Linked DNA regions of Homo sapiens: all the other regions are reported to be linked to region 1. Evidence: microRNA targets listed by miRTarBase, many of them from high-throughput screens and not tested one by one. Region 1 holds a microRNA gene; each other region holds the end of a gene's coding sequence.
The links. Region 1 holds the annotated microRNA hsa-miR-6778-3p (UGCCUCCCUGACAUUCCACAG, at 1,512-1,532, shown strand). A microRNA usually pairs through its seed, bases 2 to 8, with sites in the 3' UTR of a target mRNA and lowers its output. Matches are read on the target gene's strand: a 7mer-m8 pairs with bases 2 to 8, a 7mer-A1 pairs with bases 2 to 7 and ends in A, and an 8mer does both.

Region 1 (3,131 bases):
GACTCTGTCTCAAAAAAGAAGTGAGATCATGCAGTATTTGTCTGTCTGAGCCTGGCGTATTTCACTTAGCATAAGGTCCTCCAAGTTCATCGGTGTTGTTGCAAATGACAGAATTTCTTTTTTCAGACTGATTATTATTACATTGTTTATATATATATGTGTCACATTTCCTTTGTCCATTCATCTGTTGATGGACATGGCTTTATTCCATAACTTGGCTATTGTGAATAGTGCTGCAGTGAACATGGGAGTGCACATGTCTCTTTGACATACTGATTTCAAGTTCTTAAGATATAGATTCACAAGTGGGATTGCTGAATATGGAATTGATTTGTGTGGGTGAGGCGGGCATCCAGATAACATTTTTGTCCAAATGGATGCCCAGTTGACCTAGTGCCATTGATTGAAAAGGTCATCCTCTCCCCACTGCACTGCAGCGTCACCACTGGCATGGATCCAATGACCTGTGTTGTGTGTGGTTCTGCTTCTGGTTAAGCCAGATGCTCTGCCCTTCCATGAATGCGTGCTGCCTTAATTACTATAATTTGTCAAGCATTTTGTGACACAAAATACACAACGCAATGATGTTTTGTGTAAAGGTTTGGTATGATTTTCCTTTTATGGTTTTTGTTATTTACATTTCATTTTCTATCTTTCTTGCTTTTATATACTTTTTGGCTTTTTTTTTTTTTTTTTTTCAGATGGAGTCTCGCTCTGTTGCCCAGGCTGGAGTGCTGGAGTGCAGTGGCACAATCTCGGCTCACTGCAAGCTCCACCTCCCGGGTTCACGCCATTCTCCTGCCTCAGCCTCCCAAGTAGCTGGGATTACAGGCGCCCGCCACCATATCTGGCTAATTTTTTGCATTTTTAGTAGAGACGGGGTTTCACCGTGTTAGCCAGGATGGTCTCGATCTCCTGACCTCATGATCTGCCCGTCTCAGCCTCCCAAAGTGCTGGGATTACAGGTGTGAGCCACCGCGCCCAGCCCCTACTTCTTGTTTTTCAATGTTGTATCCAGTGACCTTGCTAAATTTGCTTATTCTAACAGTTGGCCCCTAGCATCTTGATTTTCTAGGTATATTGTGTTGTCTGTGTGTAATGTCAGTTTTTAAATTTCTTCTTTCCTAATCGTTATGCCTTTTGTTTCTTTTTCTTGCCTCATTATACTTGGAATAGAAGTAGTATTAGCAGGCATTTTGGTCTTGTTCCTGAAGGTAACCATTTTGGTTTCCATTGTGTGGTCCCGTCACATTTGTTTCATTCTGCAGGTGCTTTTTGGTTCCTTCTCAGCAGGTAGTGCCCCAGCAGCAGGGCTCACTACAACCCTGGGACTCCTCAGGGACTCCTGGGTCTGTGAGCCATACTTGGTTGAGCAGGCTGAACACACCAGTATCCATCCTGTCTCACCCTCAAGTCCTCATCTAGGACATCATTCCTCTTGTCATGGTGGGTGGAGCCAGTTCAAGTGGGAGGACAGGAGGCAGGTGTGGTTGGAGGAAGCAGCCTGAACCTGCCTCCCTGACATTCCACAGGTGAACCCAGATACTGGCTACATCAACTATGACCAGCTGGAGGAGAACGCACGCCTCTTCCACCCGAAGCTGATCATCGCAGGTGATGCGCGGGGCGGAAAGTCACCTTGTTCACCAGTAGCCTGGTGCCTCTTACAGAATGAGGATGGAAAGATGTTCGCACCCTGTTGAGCCCACTGCTAGTTTCTGCCCTGGATAACTGAGTTTCTGGGGTCTACATATATTAGTTTCTTTCAGGATACAGATGTGTGTTTGCTGCTTTTTGTGCTATGTAGATTAAGATGTGAGACTGTTCTCAGAGAAGCATCTAGAAATGTCAGGCCCTGACTGCGCTGGCAATAGTAGTTGGGGCCATCTCAACCACCAAGACGTTGAAGAGTTAGAGTGGTTGCCTTTAGCACAGAGGTGCTTTTTGAGGGCATTCTCCATTTTTGCTCTGAGACTTTAAGGGAAGAAATCTCTGGGCTTTCAGATCTGCACATCTAGAGGCCACTGTGAAGCCAACTCAGCTGGCCGGTGGACATCTCTGATGCAGCTGTGTCACCTTTCCTGTCTCAGGAACCAGCTGCTACTCCCGAAACCTGGAATATGCCCGGCTACGGAAGATTGCAGATGAGAACGGGGCGTATCTCATGGCGGACATGGCTCACATCAGCGGGCTGGTGGCGGCTGGCGTGGTGCCCTCCCCATTTGAACACTGCCATGTGGTGACCACCACCACTCACAAGACCCTGCGAGGCTGCCGAGCTGGCATGATCTTCTACAGGAAAGGTGAGCTCCCGAATGTTGGGTACAGATGGGTACCATGGTTTACATTTCTCCTGTGGGGGTTCAGATTCAGTTGAGGGAGCTGGGAAAAACTCTGACCTGGGATCCTTGGAAAATATTAAGATCCCAGTCCCTTAAAGAGCTGCTTAGGAAGGAGCAGTGACAGGCTTTACAGAAAGGATTCCCGGCCAGGTGAGGTGGCTCGCGCCTGTAATCCCAGCACTTTGGGAGGCCGAAGCGGGCAGATCACGAGGTCAGGAGATCAAGACCATCCTGGCTAACACGGTGAAACCCCGTCTCTACTAAAAACACGAAAAATTAGCCGAGTGTGGTGGTGGGCACCTGTAGTCCCAGCTACTCAGGAGGCGAAGGCAGGAGAATGGCGTGAGCCTGGGAGGTGGAGCTTGCAGTGAGCTGAGATTGTGCCACTGTACTCCAGCCTGGGCGACAGAGCGAGATGCCGTCTCAAAAAAAAAAAAAGAAAGAAAGAAAGGAATCCCCAGAAGGAGACTGTCAGCCACAGCTCCTGCTTCACTTTTGTGCATCCAGGTCCTAGGAACATAGGAGGGGGATCAGCAACCACTATGTGTTAGGATGGCGCCGGTTGCTGAACTCGAGAGGCAGGTGTTTGAATGAAAGGAGGGTGCATGGCTGGCTGGGGGCCACTGGGAGGCCTCACAAGGCTGCATTATTCTGGTGAACTTACAGTGATCCATCATGTTTCTCAAAGAGAAAGACTCATAGTAGTCAAACTAGAAGACATGGATGTATAAACATTAATATCATTTTAGTGAAGGTTTTTCTTTCCATTACCTCATAACCTACCCCTAG
Region 2 (3,131 bases), not on the chromosome of region 1:
TGCTTGGATGCCACAGCAATGTCAAATCGCTATATGTTCTTAAGCACTTGTGGCTCAGTCACAAACACAACTTGCAGACTAGCACCTGTTTGTGGATCACACTTTGAGTAGTACTGAGTTTAAGTCACTAATATTTTAAACCTTAATAACTTACACCTATCCCTGCAGAGGGGAATAGGTTCATTATATAAGATTAATCAGAAACCATCCCATATACATGGAGGACAATAGTGAAAATAGTCAAATTTTAATTTCAAATTACAAATGTAAGCCCTCTAGGACTGCTGGACATGCAGTGGATGCTGACTTTTCTCTATAATTTTTTTTAATAGGTGGTATTAAAGATGGTCACTGAGATTAAGAAGATTCCTGGTATTTCTCGAATTATGTATGACTTAACATCAAAGCCCCCAGGAACTACTGAGTGGGAGTAATAAACTTCTTGTTCTATTAAAGTACCGTGTGCAGTTTAAATTGATTAGAAATCATTCCCATTATTGACATGCAGTACTGTGAAAAGAGTTACTGGAGCAGCTACATCACATCTGAGTTCTCCACAGCAAAAATCTACGGCTTAAGAGCTGAGTTGGGGATAACCAAAAGGGACTGAAGAGTTTGTACGGGTAAATAATCAAAGCACCATTGCCTACACTCAGACAGATTGATACTGCTTTTGCCTTTGCCTCACTTATTCTTTATGTATAAATTCACTGTTGATGTCTCTGTGAATATGTATGAAGGTGGGTGAATTTGGGGGTAATTATGGGCTTCTGTCTCCTTACCAGTTTCTAAGAACTGTTAGAAACGCCCATTATTTACCAGTGTTACTTACTACTTATATATACTTTTTGGAGAATCAGTTTTCTTATAAGTAATCTTATTTCTCCAAAGGGTGAAAAAGAGATGAACATATCAGATAAAGGTATAGGTGGGCTATTCCAGCCACTTTTGAAGGACACTGAGGGTATAAAATGTAAGCTACCATAAGATGGAAAAGCACCAGGAATTTGTTGATGTACTTTTGAATTTTATTTCACAGCCTTGGGAGGAAGAAACTATGAGTGGTCTCAGATGTCTATGAATGGTCTTAAAATGTTTTCAAACCATGTTCCACATAGATGCCATGTTATTCAATGTCAGCTTGTTTATTAGTAAGGAGCTTTATCCTCCTAGCCTTATATTACCAGCCCCCCACAGCCTTGCATAGAAAGTTTCTGTTATCTCCTTAGAAGAAACTGGCTCAATGACGTTTCTGGTGTAGTGCAGATAGAGGTCAAGAGGAGCATTTTCATCTCTTCTTTTGCTGGTCAGAGAAACGGTTCTGAGATCACAGAAGCTATGATGCATACCTACAGCTTACAAAAGGGAGAGGAAAAATGTTTATATCATCTAGTAAACAGTTGTAAAATGAGCTTTTAAATCTAATCTATAGACATATTATTCATTGCTCAGACACCTGTGAACAGTCTTGATACATGCAAGATGTTTGCCAAACTTTGTAATCCTTTCTACTAGCTATAAGAGAGGATTTAAGAACTGGTGTAGGACTTGTTGCCATCACCACCAGTTTCTAACAGATCTTTTATAACATTCACATAAGTACTGTAGACAGTAGTAGACTTAAACTCTCCGTTTCTCTCAGTATTTTAGCTAAGAATGTTACCATATTTTTCTCTTAACAATTCCATCTCAGGTTGCTGCTGCTTGTCTAGTTTAAAAGGTCAGATCTATTAATCAGGAATGAAATTTTATTTGGGATTCAGTGTTAGACAAACAACAAAATGATGCGTGGCAGAAGTCATCTTTTTATTCTGGCTGGTCCAGGGAACAAGAAAACTGCTGCTGGACCAGCAAGGGAAGAGTTTCTGTCTGTCTTAACAGAAATCTGTCCCCAAGACAAAGGGGTACTTGACTCCTACAAAACTTAAAGGGTACATTCTCTATCTGATGAGGAGGTACTCATTATGGCCTTCTGGAAAGAGGCTATGTTAGTGATCTGGTCTTTACAGATTTAGAGTCATGTTATTTGAAAGCTAGAATAGACAACCTATAAAATGCTTACCAACATGTGTCAGTACACGTTTATGTTTATATGAAAAAAAATTTCTAGCCACAGTGTCTTATGATTTTGTATTGAAGCAAACAGTAGGAATTTTGGAAAAATAGAGAGTAAGAATGTGTGTTCTATGGAACACTGCTCCACTGAGAAGGTCCATGTAAAAAGGATTAGGTGGTCATATAAGTTTGGGGAACATAAGCTCACTTGTCCTTTCCTGGAGATTCATGGTATATAATATTCAAAGCTCTGAGAAATTCTGAAGTTAAAAACAATTGTTAAATTCTGCTTAAATTAGTGTTTTCCTGATATTTGTTTTTTGAACACCTTTTATATAATCCCTTCTAATATATACTTAGTATATACTTAATATAATATTGGGAAAATTGTTACTCCAAAGCACATCTTGACATGACATAGTTTCTTAAAAATCCAAATTTTCTGGAACTCAGAAATTTCCTAATATTTAGCACACTGTCTTCTTTTGCACAGCACTTTTTGCTTTGTGCCATATAGCATTACTCTGTACCTTCACAGTATTTCATCTGAGCCACTGAGGAAAGTTAAAGGTTGCACTTCCATTTTACAGTTAAGAAAACAAGCTCACCTTAGGCATGGTTACTTAATTAATTTCAGAATTAAATTTCAGGTTTCCTTAGTCCAGATTGTCCTGATGTGTATTCTGACACCTAAAATTATATAAACATTTATGGGATGCTTATTTTACTAAGACTAGAATGGTGGCTACCTGGCTAATAACATTCATCATTGGTTATTCTGGGCATATCATGACTTTATTCCCGTTGCTTACCATCTACCTGGGACACATCTCTCTTTGATTAAATATATTCTTTTTCTTTGTACTTTTTAGGTAGACAGAGAATGTAGATCATTGAAAGCATTATTTATTCCTAAGATTGGCAGGCACAGAATCATTTTTAAGAACCAAATACCCAGTCCTGCCTTAAAGGCCACATCTATGATCATCAGCTCTGTTAGAAATAACAGCCTGGCATAATTCCTAAATACAAGTCTGTAGATATATCCAGGAGATAGGGTTACACTGTTTTCTAAC
Region 3 (3,131 bases), not on the chromosome of region 1:
ACCTCAGTGATGACTTTCAAGGGCCTTCTTTTAAGTGCACATTTATTTTTTTAAACATCACGTTATTTTAGTCACACCTCCTTCTGCTACCTGAAAGATATATCATTCCATAACATCTGTACTGAATATTTTTCAAAGTATTTCAGGAAGCCATTTTCTCCTAACACCTGGTATTTGTGTTCAAAGCCATTAGAACCTCATTCTCCTGACCCAGGAGAATTCTTTAGATACACCATCACTCCTCTGTTTATCATGTGCCAAGGAACTCCTATTAATGCAGTTCACCTTCAGTTTGTGATAGCAGTGTTTTCTTTGTGTGTAATTTTTTTTTTTGGTCTTGTTTTGTTTTAACCAAGTGAATTTCTCTTTTGTTTACCAATTGTTTAATGACTCCATCAGGACCTCTTAAAAAATCACACTAATTTAAATAAATTTTAAGCCTATGAAAATAAATAATTCCAAAACTCTTCATCTTTTCCTCAGTGACACTGCTTTACTGGAGGAAGAACTGAAGAAACTCATTGATGCTCTGATAGAGAATTTTCTTCAGCCTAGTAAGAATGGACTGATCTGGCGTTCTGTTTAGGGGTACACCAATATGTCATGACACTGTGTGGGCATATGGAACAGAGCAACCGAGAACTGCATACATTGAACCTTGTGTTAGCATTCTCTCTCTATCTCATCTGGCCGAGTATCTTTTTCCTTTTATTTTCTTTCTTTTTGGTCAACTGGCTAGACTAAACAAAGTATAAGTTTGAAATGAAATGGTCTAGAGGGAAATGATTCAAATTTTTTCATAATTCAAACAAAAGTTATTACACTAAAAGTATTATAGTAACGTATTGTCCTTCCGTTAACAGAAACATCACAATTCAAAAGTGAGTTTTCTTATTATAGTGTGATTAAGCCTAGTTCTGTATCTCGTAATTGTGTATAGCATGGTAAAAGAAAAAAAAAAAGACAGGTAAATGTTATATAATTGTAGGGTTAGTTAAGGAAATTAGTCCATAAAATTGGCAAGAAAATGGTACTTTCCTTGATTGTTATGAAAAAGTGTCATTGTGACATCACAGGTATTAATTTACAAATTAGAGTATTTGAAATAGGATATTTAGCATTTCTGTAGTTTAGAACAGATGTTACAGTGTGTGGTTTTGGCATGTCTGTTTCAGGTGCCCTTGGTGCAGTATAAATTTACTGTATGTATTTAAAATTCTGATGTTTACTGAACATAAAACAATAGTGGCAACACTCCTATTGGCTTTGTTCTTATCAAATTTCTCAGTGCCTTCTCAGGGTCTGGTGTGAACAGAAAAAACAGTGTTCCTGCATTTACCATAATTTAATCAGTCAATTTGCAGATAGCTAAGGAAAATCTTCCAAAATCTGTAGGTGCTTCCTCTATATCAAGTGAGTTTGCTGATTTTAAAATCTTAGGAATATAAATAAAGATCTTAATAAAAGCAAGCTTAATGTAGTTAAGGATCTTCATATTAGAATTGTGTCATTTATCAAACCTTTTATTACAGAAAAAAATCTGAACTGAGAAAGGAGCTCTGAATTTATTTGACAGTCTAACTTTTGAATTACATTTTTGTAAGTAGATTTATTCTTTTATTTTATGAAGTAATGTTAATTTTACTAAGAATAAAACATCCAAATTTTAAGTATTATGAAATACTAAAACTACATGTTTTAAAACAGAGGTCCAGTTTATTCTAACATCTTGCTGACTTCTGTAGAATTTCTGATTGCATGACTATTATTTATCTTCTTTTAGTGTAGAAAATAATTTTTTACAAAAAGTCACTTTTGGGCTGGGCGCAGTGGCTCACGCCTGTAATCCCAGCACTTTGGGAGGCTGAGGCAGGTGGATCACAATGTCAGGAGTTTGAGACTAGCCTGGCCAATATGGTGAAACCCTGTCTCTACTAAAAATACAAAAATTAGCCGGGTGTGGTGGTGGGCACCTGTAGTCCCAGCTACTCGGGAGGCTGAGGCAGGAGAATTGCTTGAACCTAGGAGGCTGAGATTGCAGTGAGCCGAAATCACGCCACTACACTCCAGCCTGGGCAACAGAGGGAGACTCCATCTCAAAAAAAAAAAAAGTCACTTTTGGCTAATCATGCAGTCTTCTGAAAAGGTTTAATAGAGAAATGCTGTTTAGGCTGGGCTTGGTGGCTCACATCTGTAATACCAGCGCTTTGGGAGGCTGAGGCAGGAGGATTGCTTGAGGCCAGGAGTTTAAGTTACAGAACTATGATCACACTGCCGCACTGAAGCCTGGATGACAGAGTGAGACCTTATCTCAAAAAAAAAAAAAAAAAGAGAGAGAGAGAGAAAAAGAAATGCTGTGTTTAATCTTCTTAAAATGTATCTTGTCCTACATAGTTCTCAGAATACATATGGGGTATAGTTAGGAGATAACAATAACAAGACCTAAACAAATTGCTTATGGGAGATAGCACTGTAATTAGAGAATTTATTTCATATAAAATAATAATATAAAGTTTGAACTGATTAGAATGTTCCTTAAATCATGGTTTCGTTTGTTGCAGCTGTCAGCTAACATTTGGTTGAGCTCATATAATCCAAACCTAATTGTCCAACTATTGTATTGCCACTATTGTTAATTTGTTCCTTCCTTACTTTCTTATTGTTGGATCTTATATGACTGTATGACTGTAGATAATAGACAGCTAGCTAAATGTAGAGCACCATTTTTCTCAATGAGTTTGTTTTCAAAGGCTTTGCACTGGAGAAGATATGTGTAGAATTTTTGTTTTATTTTTAAAATGTGTAAAACATCTTTTGTTTTATATGCTTTTAAGAATGTAGATTGTAATTTAGGAAATGGCATATATTCTGCAAAGTGGTATAATGTTGTATATATGAAAAACAGGTATATTTGGTTTAGTTCTGTGTTTCAGTGACTGATAAACAAAAATGAAGCTAAAATGAATCAACGGCTCATTCATAGTTACTAAAGCCATGTCATGACTGTCATTCTATTATGAAGAAAACAGTTTTATTTGAGTGCTTTAATATAATGCAACATTTAAGTCATCTTAAGGTGAAAAGTTATTGAAGTGTTCTTCTCTCAAGTTAACAAAATTTTACAAATGTTC
Region 4 (3,131 bases), not on the chromosome of region 1:
GCTGTTGGAGATGTCCGAGCTCCCCGGAGATAGCAGTGTCCCACAGGTGGGCACCGCGAGTGGCGTCAGCGACGTACTGCGGGGGGCAGTCGGCGGCGGGGTTCGGGTGCAGGAGGCTCGGGAAGGCCCAGTGGCCGAAGCTGCGCGGTCCATGGCGCGGATGCCGGGCCCTGTGCCCGGGCCCATCCCCAGCAGCGTCCCGGGCCTGGCCTCCGCGCCAGACCCCCATCAGCAGCTCGCTTTCTTAGAAATTAACCGGCAGCTGTTGTTCCGCGAGTATCTGGATGGTAGCTCCATGATTCCGGTCAGATTACTACGGGATTTCGAGGAACGCCGCAGGCTGTTTGTGGAAGGCTGCAAGGCGAGGGAAGCAGCCTTTGACGCGGATCCCCCGCAGATGGACTTCGCTGCTGTCGCGTTTACGGTAGCGCTGACTGCCTCCGAGGCCCTCAGTCCTCTGGCCGACTGAGTCGGCTGTGATGATGACATTGGTGGCAAGGAATAGCCAAGTGACCCTTTTGGGATCAAAAGAACAGGCAGGCTGTGCCAGTTTAGTTAACTCAGTCATTAGGGGGAATGCAAACTGGAAGGGAATACGGCAATGTGCAATTGAAGGAGGAAGCACACTCCGAAATGGAAACAGACAAGACTGTTGAATCTTGTTTTCTTTCTTCTTTTTTAGTATTATTTAAATAGAGAAGGGAGTCTCGCATCCCTAGGCTGGTCCCGAACGCTTGGACCCGAGCGATCCTCCCGCTTCGGCCTCCCAAAGTGCTGGGATTACTTTACAGGCGTGAGCCACCGCGCCCGGCCGAATCTTGTTTTCAAACAGGTCCCAAGACACTTCTGACTTAGCACTTTGTTAGCAATGCATTTTCCTGCATTTGTGAAGAATCCTTCATGACTTTCACCATAAAGGATGGTTTTGCAAAGATATGAGAAAAAAAAAATGCCAATAACAGAACCCATAGAAATGAACCTAAGTGATGAAAGAAAACAAAGAAATAGAGTTGTCAGGAATCCAGGTGTACCTGAGTTACTAGGATTGGAAGGCTATTGAGAGGACTTTGAAATTTCACAATTTGTGGTCATGTCAACAAATCCTAGTGTAAGATTCATATTTGTGTTTTCTGAGGTACTTTAGATGAACAGTAAATATTCAATAGAAAAAACCACGTATTATATGATCAGTGTTTTCAAGTCTATGTGAAATTGGGTAGGTGTGGAATAAACTTGTTTTTTGTTAATTTTAAGCTTTTTATTTTATTCTAGAATATGTATTCTATTCACAAGACTCAACAAAAAAAAGTATCGGCCGGGCGCACTGGCTTACGCCTGTAATCCCAGCACTTTGGGAGGCCACGGCGGGTGGATCACCTGAGGTCAGGAATTCAAGACCACCCTGGCCAACATGGTGAAACCCCATCTCTACGAAAAATAAAAAATTAACTGGGTGTGGTGGCACGCGCTTGTAGTCCCAGCTACTCGGGAGGCTGAGGCAGGAGAATCACTTGAACCTGGGAGGCGGAGGTTGCAGTAAGCCGAGATCACGCCACTGCACTCCAGCCTGGTCAACAGAGTGGGACTCCGTCTCAAAAAAAAGAAAAAAAGTATCAAAAGATGCTGTGAGAAATCTCTCTTGTTGCTGTCCTTTGCCAAACTCAGAACTATTCCATGCAGGTGCCATTGCTTGTGGCTTGGAGTTTTGTTGTTGTTTTCTTGGTTTTGCTTGTTTTTTGCTTTTTCACTGTACGCCTTTCAGGTTTTCTAATGCATATGCAAATAAACATCAATCTAAATATTGTGCATTTTCCCTTTTAATATCAAGGTAGTTAACTTGCATCACGAGGTATAAATTTTTAAAAATATAAAATCAAGGTAACATATTGTATACCTCTATCAGCATCTTGGGTTTTTTCAGTTATATATGGAGAGATTTATATATCAGGGTTTTTTTTTTCTTTTTTTATATATAGAAACAGAGATGGGGCCTCATTATGTTTTCTAGGCTTGTCTCCAACTCTTGGCTTCAACTGTTCCTCCTGCCTCGGCTTCCCAAAGTACTAAGTGCTGGGCGTGAGCTACTCCACTGGGCGTTTTTTTTTTTACAACTACAATGTAAAGCCTTATCTTAGTATAATGAACTAGACACCTTTTGGACATCTGGGTTGTTTGCAAAATGTTTTAACATTTTCTATGCATTTATACGTGTTTACTCGTTTTCCATAATACACTGTTTTTTTTTTTTCTTTTTGAAACAGAGTCTTGCTCTGTCACCCAGGCTGGAGTGCAGTGGTGCAATCTCAGCTCACTGCAATCTCTGCCTCCTGGGTTCAAGTGATTCTCCTGCCTCAGCCTCTGGAGTACCTGGAACTACAGGCACGTGCCACCATGCCCGGCTAATTTTTTGTATTTTTAGTAGAGAAAGGGTTTCACCGGTTAGCCAGGATGGTCTCGATCTCCTGACCTCAAGATCTGCCTGCCTCAGCCTCCCAAAGTGTTGGGATTATAGGTTTGAGCCACCGCACCCAGCCACCTTATTTTTTGTTTGTTTTTGTTTTTTTTCTGAGACGGAGTCTCACTCTGTCGCCTGAACTGGAGTGCAGTGGCACCATCTCAGCTGACTGCAACCTCCACTTCCCGGGTTCAAGCTATTCTGCCTCAGCCTCCGAGTAGCTGGGACTACAGGTGCACCACTGTGCCCAGCTAATTTTTGTATTTTTTTAGAGAAAGGGTTTCACCATGTTGGCCAGGCTAGTCTCGAACTCCTGACCTCGTGATCCACCTGCCTCAGCCTCCCAAAGTGCTGAGATTACAGGCGTGAGCCACCGCACCCGGCCCCACCTTGGTATTTTTAATGTGTCACCAGAGTGCTGTCCTTGGGGCTCAACCAGTTTACCTTCCATTCAGCCAGGGATAGTTGTGCCTCTCGCCACGGCCTGGCTAATCTGACAGCTTTGGAAGCATCTGACAGTAAAAGATGGTTTCTCACTATGGTTTTAATTTGAATTTCTCTAATTACGAGTGAGGACGCATGTTTTCAAATGCTTAAGAGCCATTTGTTTTCATTTCTCAGCGAACTATCTGTCCATATTCTTATTTTTTATTGGCTTGTAAGTTATGTGTCAGTC

Region 2: miRTarBase lists GMPS as a target of hsa-miR-6778-3p. The part of its 3' UTR that is shown has no 7-base or 8-base seed match.
Region 3: miRTarBase lists PGM2L1 as a target of hsa-miR-6778-3p. Seed matches in the 3' UTR shown: 7mer-m8 at 1,859-1,865, 7mer-m8 at 1,992-1,998 and 7mer-m8 at 2,210-2,216.
Region 4: the mRNA of EID2B is a reported target of hsa-miR-6778-3p. Seed matches in the 3' UTR shown: 7mer-m8 at 1,354-1,360, 7mer-m8 at 1,488-1,494 and 7mer-m8 at 1,520-1,526.

Annotation. Positions count from the first base shown.
Region 1 is chr17:18,339,215-18,342,345 of GRCh38, reverse strand. It overlaps MIR6778 (microRNA 6778), which reads left to right and starts at 1,460; the gene lies at 1,460-1,532. It overlaps SHMT1 (serine hydroxymethyltransferase 1), which reads left to right. Exons shown (of 12, transcript NM_004169.5): 6 at 1,533-1,614; 7 at 2,091-2,303.
Region 2 is chr3:155,937,259-155,940,389 of GRCh38, forward strand. GMPS (guanine monophosphate synthase) reads left to right here. Exons shown (of 16, transcript NM_003875.3): 16 at 333-3,131. The coding sequence ends at 434. Among named protein-coding and RNA genes, the nearest start is that of GMPS, 68 kb to the left of the region's middle.
Region 3 is chr11:74,334,107-74,337,237 of GRCh38, reverse strand. It overlaps PGM2L1 (phosphoglucomutase 2 like 1), which reads left to right. Exons shown (of 14, transcript NM_173582.6): 14 at 484-3,131. The coding sequence ends at 586. All of the region lies in intron 2 of LOC112268078 (a long non-coding RNA gene), which reads right to left. Among named protein-coding and RNA genes, the nearest start is that of P4HA3, 24 kb to the right of the region's middle.
Region 4 is chr19:39,529,655-39,532,785 of GRCh38, reverse strand. It overlaps EID2B (EP300 interacting inhibitor of differentiation 2B), which reads left to right. Exons shown (of 1, transcript NM_152361.3): 1 at 1-1,799. The coding sequence ends at 469. Among named protein-coding and RNA genes, the nearest start is that of EID2B, 1.6 kb to the left of the region's middle.